2 separate regions of the Homo sapiens genome follow, and region 2 is linked to region 1. The links come from fine-mapping of genetic effects on gene expression. A gene starts in region 1. The other region holds a variant in brackets. All regions are shown on one strand. Distances are between the middles of the regions. Region 1 holds the start of MAD2L2 (mitotic arrest deficient 2 like 2). Region 2 overlaps DRAXIN (dorsal inhibitory axon guidance protein).

Evidence for each region. PIP is the estimated chance that this variant, and not a neighbour inherited with it, causes the effect. A credible set is the group of variants that fine-mapping cannot tell apart.
Region 2: its variant is the best candidate, but not a certain one, in a credible set for the expression of MAD2L2 in nucleus accumbens (GTEx, PIP 0.73).

What each region holds. Positions count from the first base shown.
Region 1 is chr1:11,678,977-11,684,341 of GRCh38, reverse strand. MAD2L2 (mitotic arrest deficient 2 like 2) reads left to right here and starts at 3,194. Exons shown (of 9, transcript NM_006341.4): 1 at 3,194-3,303; 2 at 3,729-3,780; 3 at 3,871-3,989. The coding sequence starts at 3,741. RefSeq lists an enhancer at 648-1,229 and silencers at 2,853-3,372, 3,813-3,872.
Region 2 is chr1:11,705,662-11,711,026 of GRCh38, reverse strand. DRAXIN (dorsal inhibitory axon guidance protein) reads right to left here. Exons shown (of 7, transcript NM_198545.4): 2 at 4,318-4,778; 3 at 1,562-1,752. The coding sequence starts at 4,768. Among named protein-coding and RNA genes, the nearest start is that of DRAXIN, 17 kb to the right of the region's middle. The variant T/G (reference allele first, on the strand shown) is at 2,215.

The DNA.
Region 1 (5,365 bases):
TCAAAAATGTAATAAATTAACCCCATAATGTAATCTGGATCCCACAACCATCCATCATGCTGATGCGATTAAGATATGCAAAACCAGATGCTGAAGAGCGCATGGATGGAGTGTTGGCAGAGCTCCCCGGATGGGCCCATGCTGACTCGGCCCCCTGCCCCTGCCCCCGCCCCCATGGAACCTGAGGCCATCAGAGGTTTAGGGAACATCTATCTGGCCTGTTCATTTCACTAATGAGACTGAAGCCTTTTAGGGGTTTGGGGTCAGATGGGTTTGAATCCCTCCCCATCTGCTTCCTAACCCACCTTCCTTCTGTTTGTGATTGGATCTGAACCCAAGGCCCCAAACCCAGACTTTTTTTGTTTTTTTGAGATGGAGTTCTCGCTCTTGTTGCCCAGGCTGGAGTGCAATGGTGCGATCTTGGCTCACCACAACCTCCGCCTCCCGGGTTCAAGTGACTGTCCTGCCTCAGCCTCCTGAGTAGCTGGGATTACAGGCATGCGCCACCACACCTGGCTAATTTTGTATTTTTAGTAGAGATGGGGTTTCTCCATGTTGGTCAGGTTGATCTCAAACTCCTGACCTCAGGTGATCCACCAGCCTCAGCCTCCCAAAGTGCTGGGATTACAGGCGTGAGCCACCCACCGTGCCCAGCTGACGTTTTTTTTTAATTGCAATAATTTTTGGTTACATGGGTAAGTTATTTAGTGGTGACTGCTGAGATTTTGGTGCATCCATCACCTCAGCAGTGTACACTGTACCCAGTATGTAGTCTTTTGTCCCTCACCTTCCCACCCTTCCCTCACCTTCCCACCCTTCCTTCCCCCCGAGTCCCCAAAGTCCAATATATCATTCCTATGCCTTTGCATCCTCATAGGTTAACTCCCACTTACAAGTGAGAACATATGATATTTGCAAACCCAGATATTTTTATCCACAGGTTTCTAGTTGACAGGGTGGGTACTCCAGTGTCAAGAGCTGTTGGGACCTCAGTTTCCCCAAGGAAAAATGACAGTTGAGTTTATGTCCTCCAAGGTTTTTCTGACGTTCTTAGCTCTGTGTGTCAGGAGTTCTACGGGTGGCTCGTATTGTGTTTTCTCAGGGCAGAGGGCTGGGGCTGGGAGCTCATGGAGGGAGGGCCTGACTTGAGCCCCAATGCCCCTCACACTGTGTCCTGAAGGCCATCCCACAGGAGTCACTTGGCTCTCAGTTTCCCCACCCCAGGCCCCAGTCTGAAGGGCTCCTTTGCAAGGAGTTGCCCCCTATGACTGCCACTGCCTGTCACCAATGCAAAAGCTGCTTAAGCAGCCTCCAGAGAGGGAAAGGAAAGACCCTTGCTTTTCCCAAGTTCTGCAATGAGTCAGTCTCAAGGAGCCACGGAACTCTGTGTATAAGCCAGTGAGTTGCTTGGCCAGCTCTGTGTGGAAATGGCATGATGTGTGCAGGATCCCCATATCTTGAGAATGGTTGCTGTGCCCAGAATGTGCTGCCAAGTGCACCAGTTCCTAAAACAAAATCATCCATCCCTTTGGATGGATGATTTTACATCACAATTTTACAAAATGCATCGCATTTTTACAAAATGAAGATATTCTCTGGGAACAGTCCAAACCTCTGTGGTGATTCCCACACTTTGCTGGGCATCCGGGCCCCTGGGGAGCTTGTTAAAGGGCCAGTGCCCTGCTGTGCACCCCACCTCGATCAGGTTGCTCTAGGCAGCAGGGCAGCTGTGATTAATGGGCTCCTGGGGGATTCTGATGCAGATTTCCTAGGACTGCATTTGAAGAAATGTTTTGCTGACATTCCTAGCTTAATGGGTTACTTACAGGTTACTTTTTCTCTCCCCATTAGAAGTCTGGAAATGCAGGTTTGAAGGCATCAGGGGGCGGGGGGAGGGATCCAGGTCTTCTATAATGAGCTGTAAACGATAAACAAGTCTGGCTAGATCTGTGTCCAAACAGACGGATGGGACTAACAAGCTCTTACGTCCCTGGAGGTCACAGACAAAGTCCTCTTGGCTTCTGGTCCTGACTTGTTGCCCACTAACTCCGTAGCTGCTTCTCAGATCTTAGTTTTCTCACTTGTAAAATAAGGGGGCTGTAAATAAGTGGAAGCCCTGGTGTCAGAAGAGGCATCAGAGCTGGGTTTGTATTCCCACTGTGTGATTTTGGCGAATTAGAGAACGTTTCTGGGCCTGTTTAACCATCTGTAAAGTGGGGCTATAAAATGGAGACTTAGCTGCTAGGGTTAATGAGAGAATTAACGGAATCAGTGTTTGACACATAAGAAGTGCTCGATGTTAGTCATTATTTTTTATTATTTTAGTAATATCATCTCTGAGGGCCCTTACAGGACTTCCAGACCGAGTCCACGCCCCTGGGGGACTTGGGAGCAGTAAAATGTAGTGGCAGGAGGCACCTCGGCCATCGCCCACCCCACCAGCTGGGAGACTCGGGCAGGTTATTCACCCTTCTGCACCTCGCTTGACTTATCTGTATAAAGAGAACAGTCACAGTAACTGCCTCATGGAGTTACTCCCAGGACTGAGATAATCCACGGACACACTTAGCCCAGTGCCCAGCACTCGGCTGGAGCTCCAAAAAGGTCAGCTATTGTTATGAAGCGTAGGGCGGGGAGGGTTCATCCTCTTGGGCGGTCAGGCCAGGCTGCATTTAGGTACCCGGTGGGGGCGGAGCAGGGGCGACGCCGGTGCACGCCCTCTTTTTTTTATTTTTAAAATTTCACCCGGGCCTTGACAACCGGTACAATCCTGTCCTCCCCTGTTCCCGCCCCCGAGCCAGAGGATTCGCTTTTGCGTGGGCAGCTGCAGGGATGGTGACTCGGGCTAGCTCAGATGTGGCTGCCGTTAGTCCCCAGCTGCGCGCTCCCCCGTCCCTCCCCAGCCCTCTTCCGGCGCCTGCTAAAGCGAGAGAAATGCCCTCGGGGGAAGATATGTAGCGATCCAATGGAACGTGGAGATCAACGTTGTGTTTTCTTCGCGCCCACCCGAAGTTGAAGGGAGGTGGCGCGGCGGGTCTCAGCCCCTCCCGGACGCCGAGGCCCGGCCCCCGCCCCTCGGAGACCCGCCCCCGCATGCGGAACCGCCCTCTGCGAGGCCCGGTTTGGGCCGTGCGGGAATGGGCGTGGCCTGGGCGGGGCGGGCGCTAGGACCCACCGGAGCGCCGTGAACGTCACCGAGCGGCGCCGAGGCCCCGGGTTGAGCGGGAGGCGCGATCGGTCCGGTCGGTGGCTCCCCGCGGCGGGGCCGGGCCCGATCTCGGGCGGGAACCGAGCGCAGAGCCGGTACTGGGGGAGGGGAGAGGGGGCGGGATTCCCGCCGGGAGGGATCCGGCGTAGCAGGGGGCGGAGTCTTATTCCAACCCCGCTTCGCTTTCCGCATGTCCCGCTTTGCGCTCCCGGCCCTGGGCATCCCGCTGTTTCCCTCTGCGTCCGCGGCCCTGCCCTTTTCGGGGGCACAGCTGTGGTCTTTCCACCCCGCGAGACAGCGGGGCGAGGGGGCGCGGGCGGCCAGTGGATAGAGGCTGATGCCCCCAAGCACGGACGCCAGCGTGGGGGTGGAGGTTCTTCCAGCTGCCCTGAGCCTGTGCGAAGCGGGAGGTCCTTCCCCAGTTCCCACAGACTGTGGGGAGGGAAGAGACGGTGGAAGCGAGCGGGTTCTGGGCTCCTGGGTCTCTGGAACTACCCTCTGCCCTTGCCCCAACACTCAGGTAGCGGGAAGGATGACCACGCTCACACGACAAGACCTCAACTTTGGCCAAGGTAGGGAGGCTGGACCTGCGGGCCCGGGGGCGGGGGCGTCTGGGCCGGCGGGCTTCCTCGAGCGCGCCACCGGCTTGTGCCCCCCTGCAGTGGTGGCCGATGTGCTCTGCGAGTTCCTGGAGGTGGCTGTGCATCTCATCCTCTACGTGCGCGAGGTCTACCCCGTGGGCATCTTCCAGAAACGCAAGAAGTACAACGTGCCGGTCCAGGTGAGGCACGTCCCAGAACCACAGAGTGGGTACAGGGTGGACTTTTAAAAATTCTTTGGTCGGGCGCCGTGGCTCACGCCTGTAATCCTAGCACTTTGGGAGGCCGAGGCGGGCGGATCACCTGAGGTCAGGAGTTCGAGACCAGCCTGACAAACATGGTGAAACCCCGTCTCTACTAAAAATACAAAAATTAGCCGGGCGTGGTGGCCAAGGCCTGTAATCCCAGCTACTCAGGAGGCTGAGGCAGGAGAATCCCTTGAACCCAGGAGGCGGAGGTTGCAGTGAGCCGAAATTGTGCCACTGCATTCCAGCCTGGGTGACAAGAGCGAAACTCCGTCTCAAAAAAAAAAAAAAAAAAAAAAAAAAACCTCTTCCACTTCGGGCCAAGCCACCTCATTCCGCAGGGCCCTGCCCATGCCTTCCAATGCCTTCCAGTTCCAAAGTGGTGATGCCTACCCACCCCTCAGAAGAGAGTTCCCCTTGCCAGAAGTTAGGGACCAGGCCTGATAAGAGTTACCCCGGGGGTGGCCGGGCATGGTGGCTCACACCTGTAATCCCAGCACTTTGGGAGGCTGAGGCGGGCGAATCACAAGGTCAGGAGTTCAAGAAACCAGCCTGACCAACATGATGAGATCCTGTCTCTACTAAAAATACAAAAATTAGCCTGGTGTGGTGGTACGCGCCTGTAATCCCAGTTACTAGGGAGGCTGAGGCAGGAGACTCGCTTGAACCCGGGATGCAGAGGTTGAAGTAAGCCCAGATCGTGCCACTGCACTCCAGCCTGGGCGACAGAGCAAGACTATGTCTCCAAAAAAAAAAGTTACCCTGGGGGCATGGTGGCACTTTGAAGGAGCTCGTGAAGCTGGTGAACCTTGGTGTGAGGAGGGTATTTCCAAAAACCTCCAAATCTTCTCCCTACCATTTATCCTAAACTCAATGGGTTAAGGCTAAAAGGCAGACAAAGCAGTGTGCATCGCACTGTAGCTCCAGTCCCTAGAAGTGCCTGTCTCTGGAAGGCACTCAGGAAACATGAGAATAAGTGGTAGAAGCTCAAAGGACATCCAGGTGGTCCCCGCTTCAAGTCCCCACACCACCATTGTTTTCTCACTTCCAGTATGGTATTCAAGACATTACTTGAGGTAGTCAGCACTTTATTTTTTATTTTATATTTTATTTTATTTTATTTTTTGAGACTGAGTCTCGCTCTGTCGCCCTGGCTGGAGTGCAGTGGCGTGATCTTGGCTCACTGCAACCTCCACCTCCTGGGTTCAAGTGATTCTCCTGCCTCAGCCTCCCGAGTAGCTGGGATTACAGGCGTGTGCCACCACATCTGGCTAATTTTTGTATTTTTAGTAGAGACAAGGTTTCGCCGTGTT
Region 2 (5,365 bases), 27 kb before region 1:
AGCCACCCACTGCACCTGGCCTATTTCTTTTTTATGTATTTTTTATACATATATATTATTGATCCTTTTAAATAATTTTAGTTTGAAAACCTTTTTTTTTTTTTTGAGATGGAGTCTCACTCTGTCGCCCAGGCTGGAGTGCAGTGGCGTGATCTTGGCTCACTGCAAGCTCTGCCTCCCGGGTTCAAGCAATTCTCTGCTTCAGCCGCCCAAGTAGCTGGAACTACATGTGCCTGCCACTATGCCCGGCTATTTTTTTTTTTTTTTTGTATTTTTAGTAGAGATGGGGTTTCACCATGTTAGCCAGGATGGTCTCGATTTCCTGACCTTGTGATCTGCCCGCCTTGGCCTCCCAAAGTGCTGGGATTACAGGCATGAGCCACCGCGCCCGGCCTGAAAACCTTTAAAAGCCACAGAAGAGGTGCAAGAACGATGCGGTCAGCTCCTATATACCCCTCTTCCAGAATCACCAGTGGGTAGTGTTTTTGCCACATTTGCCGCTTACTTTCTCTCCACATTTTTTTTTTCCCTTGAGACAGGGTCTCACTCTGTCGCCCAGGCTGGAGTGCAGTGGTGCAATCATGGCTCACTGCAGCCCTGACCTCCTGGGTTCAAGCGATCCTCCTGCCTCAGCCTCCCAAGTAGCTGGTACTACAGGCACATGCCCTCATGCCTGTCTAATTTTTTAAAAAAGTTTTGTAGACACAGGGTCTCACTATGTTGCCCAGGATAATCTCAAACTCCTGGGCTCAAGTGACCCTCGTGCCTTGGCCTTCTAAGGTGTTAGAATTACAGGCTTGAGCCAACGTGCCCGCCCCACATTTCTTTTTTTTTTTTTTTTTGAGACAAAGTCTCACACTGTCACCCGGGCTGGTGTGCAGTGGGGCGATCTTGACACGCTACAGCCTCCGCCTCCCAAGTTCAAGCGATTCTCCTGCCTCAGCCTCCCGAGTAGCTGGGACTACAGGCGTGCGCCACCACACTCAGCTAATTTTTGTATTTTTAGTAGAGATGGGGTTTCACTATGTTGGCCAGGCTGGTCTCGAACTCCTGACCTCGTGATCTGCCCACCTTGGCCTCCCTAAGTGCTGGGATTACAGGCATGAGCCACCGCGCCCAGCCCACATATCTTTTTTAAAGATCTGATGCAGATGGGTCCAAGTGTTAGCTAATGCTTATTAATTCTGGGTCTTGACGACACAGTTTTAAAAATCACCATTATTATGCTTCATGCTCCTCTGTACACAGAAAGCTCCTCCCCAGGCCTTGCTGCTCTCCATGCAGACACCAGCATGCTGAGCTACCGCTTGCCTCCTTGGCTGTCCCCAGAGTGGGCCCCCAGGAGCACTTTGCCCTGGACAGTGGCAGACCCTTGTCAGGATGGGGCACCCACCAGGGCTGGAGCTAGACTGGATGGGCAGCAGGAGATCTGGTTTCAATCTAAGTAAGCTCTGTGGCCTCCTGCCCCCGTGCCTCAGTCTCCCTACATGTATTAAGAGGGCTTTCCATGACATGGGCTCAAGGACCCTTCCAGATCCGAGGCTGTTTGGGGACCCCTTACCTGGGGCCGCAGGGAGGTGACGGGCAGGATCAGGGACTCTTCTGTGGCAGGTGCTGCCTCAAAGGTGGTGAGAAAGAACATGGTGGGCGCCAGGCTGGTGGAGGATTCCTCCATGGCTGCATCCAGCACCTGGGCTTCGGAGAGCTCTGCCTTCTTCATCAGGGAGCTGGGACCTCGGACCAAGGCTCGGCCTGAGACACAGGGTGGGGAGCACGGGGGCTATATCTGCTTGCCACCTCGTGGCAGTCTACAGTAGAACCCACGTTTTATGCTGCAAACTAGGAGGCAGCAGGCACTGTGTGACAAGCCCTTGGTTCAGCCCCCATTCCTGCTTCCTACCCTTCTTGGGAGGTTGGGGGATGGGAACTCGGAGGAAAATGTCTTGGAAGAACTTGCAGTGTCGCTGGGGAGACAGTCCAAGGATTCTCCCTGTAAAGCAACATTCCAGCAAGTCCAAGTCCAGATTGGCTGGGCGCAGCCAGATATGTAAGTATAACAAATAGGAACTAGTAGGATTAACCATGGAAGGCTTCCTGGAGGAGGTGAAGTTTGAGTAGGGAGAAATGTCATGAGGCTGAGAATCATTGCAGTGGCCTTTGAGGAAGCTGGGAGGTGGGAATCACTGCTTATCACACACAAGTGAGTGCATCCTG[T/G]GTGGTGACAATTAGTCATCACCCCATTAATGGAGCACCTGCTGTGTGCTGGGTCCCAGAGGAGCTGTGTCACAAGTGTTATTTCGTCTAACTACTGCAAGAGCTCTGGGAAGTGGGTGCTCCTTCAGTCTCATCTACAGGGAAGGAAACTGAAGCACAGAGAGGTTAGGTGACTCACGCAAGGATGCACAGCTCATGAGTAGCAGGGTCTGGATTCAGCTCCAGCAGGGCTGGAGTGCAGGGGCTCAATCTTGGCTCACTGCAACCTCTGCCTCCAGGGTTCAAGTGATTCTCCCACCTCAGCCTCCTGAGTAACTGGGATTACAGGCATGCGCCACCACACCTGGCTAATTTTTGTATTTTTGATAGAGATGGGGTTTCTCCATATTGCCCAGGTTGGTCTCCAACTCCTGATCTCAAGTGATCTGCCTGCCCAGCCTCCCAAAGTGCTGGGATTACAGGTGTGAGCCACCACGCCCAGCCTGGCCTGAGGTTTCACAGCCAGTCATTAGCAGAGCAGGGCCTAGCCCGCAAACCTTCTCCGTTCCCCACCTCCTCCTCACCATATCAACTCTCCCAGGAGGCCTGGCTGCAGCCCTGGAGCTGGCGGAGCCGGAGCCCAGCAGGACGGGTCCACACCCCACGCGTGCCCTCTAGCTGTCCTCAAAGGTCCCAGCATCCTCCCCTGAAAGCTGACACAGGTAACTCCAGGAGTGGGAGGCTGAAAGTCGAAGCCGGGGGACCCTGACTGACCTCTGCCCTCTTGGGGGGTTCTCAGGCCTCACAGGGAAGCCAGCCTCAGCTGTTTGCACGAGAAGGGGTGTTGAAGCTCCATTGCCTTCCTGCCAAAGAACCCTGCTGTCACCACTGCATTTGTGGCACTCGGCATGTCCCTAGAGGCAGTCGGGTCACATGGAGAGCTTAGAAGCCAAGTTCCCTGGCTTAGGGCCAGGCAAGGCTGGGAGGAGCCACCTGACTGGAGCTGAGGGGACATGTCTACTCCGAGACTGAATGGGCACGGGGAGGGGGAAGCCTGGGCCAGCAGGGGGCTAGCTAGCTCCCAGCGGATGTGGGGGAAACGTTAAGGAAGGTGGGAAGGGCTAGGGGAGCACTGAGACAAACAGGGCAGAGGCAGGAGCGGTAGGCAAGCGATGCCTCTCCTGGAGTCACCTGTGTCCAGGCTGGAGGACACTGAGTTGGCCTCAGCAGGTGGCTGAGATTAACCAGAACAATGACTGCTCATGGCCCTGCCAGCTGAGCTCCAAGCGCCCCACTAACCAAGTCTCTGCAACGACACTGAGGGTAGATGGGATGGGACCAGTCTCCTTGCTTTACAGAGGGGAAAACCGAGGCACAGAAAGAGAACTTGCCCAGGGCCACACCCTAGTGGTGGAGGCAGGACCTGATCTCAGGCAGACCTGGCTTCAGAGTCTAGGCTCTTAGCTCCTACCGGATGCGTCAGAGTCGAGTAAGAAATGTGCTTGGAGGGCGCTGAACTGTTCCATTTCTACTCAGAACTTAAAGTAGGAGAAATTTAGGTCAGATACAAGGTAGAACTTCCTGATTCAGGAGGATGATCTGTTGATAAGACAGATTATTATTATTATTTTTTGAGACGGAGTCTCGCTCTGTCACCCAGGCTGGAGTGCAGTGGCGCCATCTCAGCTCACTGCAAGCTCCGCCTCCTGGGTTCACACCATTCTCCTGCCTCAGCCTTCCAAGTAGCTGGGACTACAGGCGCCCACCATCGCGCCCGGCTAATTTTTTGTATTTTTAGTAGAGACGGGGTTTCACCGTGGTCTCGATCTCCTGATCTCATGATCCGCCCGCCTCGGCCTCCCAAAGTGCTGGGATTACAAGCGTGAGCCACGGCACCGGGCCGCGATAAGACAGATTGTATTGCAACACATCCCTCTCCTCTTCCCATGCCCCAACCCCAGGCCTCTCCCAGCCTCCTCCCCTTACCAGGTCCCTCTGGCTTCAGTGAGACCCCTCCTCTCCTCTGGACCTCATGCCCCTGACCCTTGCCTGCATCCTCTCCTGCTCCCCTCAGTCCATGGCAGGAATCACCCCCATCCCCACCCCTCGCAGCCCTCCAGCTACCTTGGTGCAGCCTCAACCTGTCCCTGCGTCTCTTGTGCTCCCTGCTGCGTTTCCTGGTCCTCTCCCAACCTGGAGGTCGGTTCTCCTTCTCGGGGTAGGGCAATGCCAGTCCCAGGAGCAGGTCCTTGTCCTGCAGCAGGCCTGCAGGACTCTGCTCAGGCAGCAGCCCCTCAGCCTCTGGCAGCCTGGAGGCCTGCCTGGTGGCGGTGACCACAGCCCCATCCTGGGCCTGGCTGGGCAGGCCTGGGCCCCACTCCTTCTTGCCCGGGCCCCGCCGGCGGTGGTGGCTGGCCTGAGGCGTCCACAGCGCTGGGCCTGGGAGGTCAATGTGATTCTCAGGGAGGTTCCGGGCAGGGGTCCCAGGTGCAAGGGCGCCTGCCAGGCTCAGCTCCAGGGGCAGCAGGAGGACGAGGAACAGCATGGGAGCGGTGTGGATGGCAGGCCCAGCCATTGGCTCCTCCCTGCAAGAAGAGCAACACCATGAATGCGCAGCCCCAGGCCTCTCTCTGCTGCCCCTCACTCAAATGATTAAAGCCCAGTTTTTCTCAACAGCCATAGAGGGACATTTTGCTCCCAGTGACATTTGGCAATGCCCGAAGACATATTTTAGTTGTCAAAACTGGGGAGTGCTACTGGCAGGTAGAGGTTGGAGCCCGTGGATGCTGCTAAACGCCCGACAATGCACAGGACAGCCCCCGAAACCAAGAATCATCCGGCCCAGAAAAACAACAGTACCGAGGCTGAGAACCCCCGGCTTAAATCATTTCAGCAGCATTCAAGTTCCAGATTAGTCCAGAATTCCTTTCTCTGCACAAACCTCTGCCCCTTACCAAGTCCCCTAGAGGGAACCGAGTCCCTCAGAGCTCAGAAATATGCCTCTGGCCCCTGAGACTTGACTCGGAGCCTAATTCCATACAAATGGAATAATAGCGTTTGAGCGCACGCTGTAGGCAGGACCCACGTTAAGTGCTTTGTGTGAATTCATGTCACTTCGCCCTTTCAAGAGCTCTCTGAAATGGCTCCTGTTATTTTCCCCATTTTTCTGAAG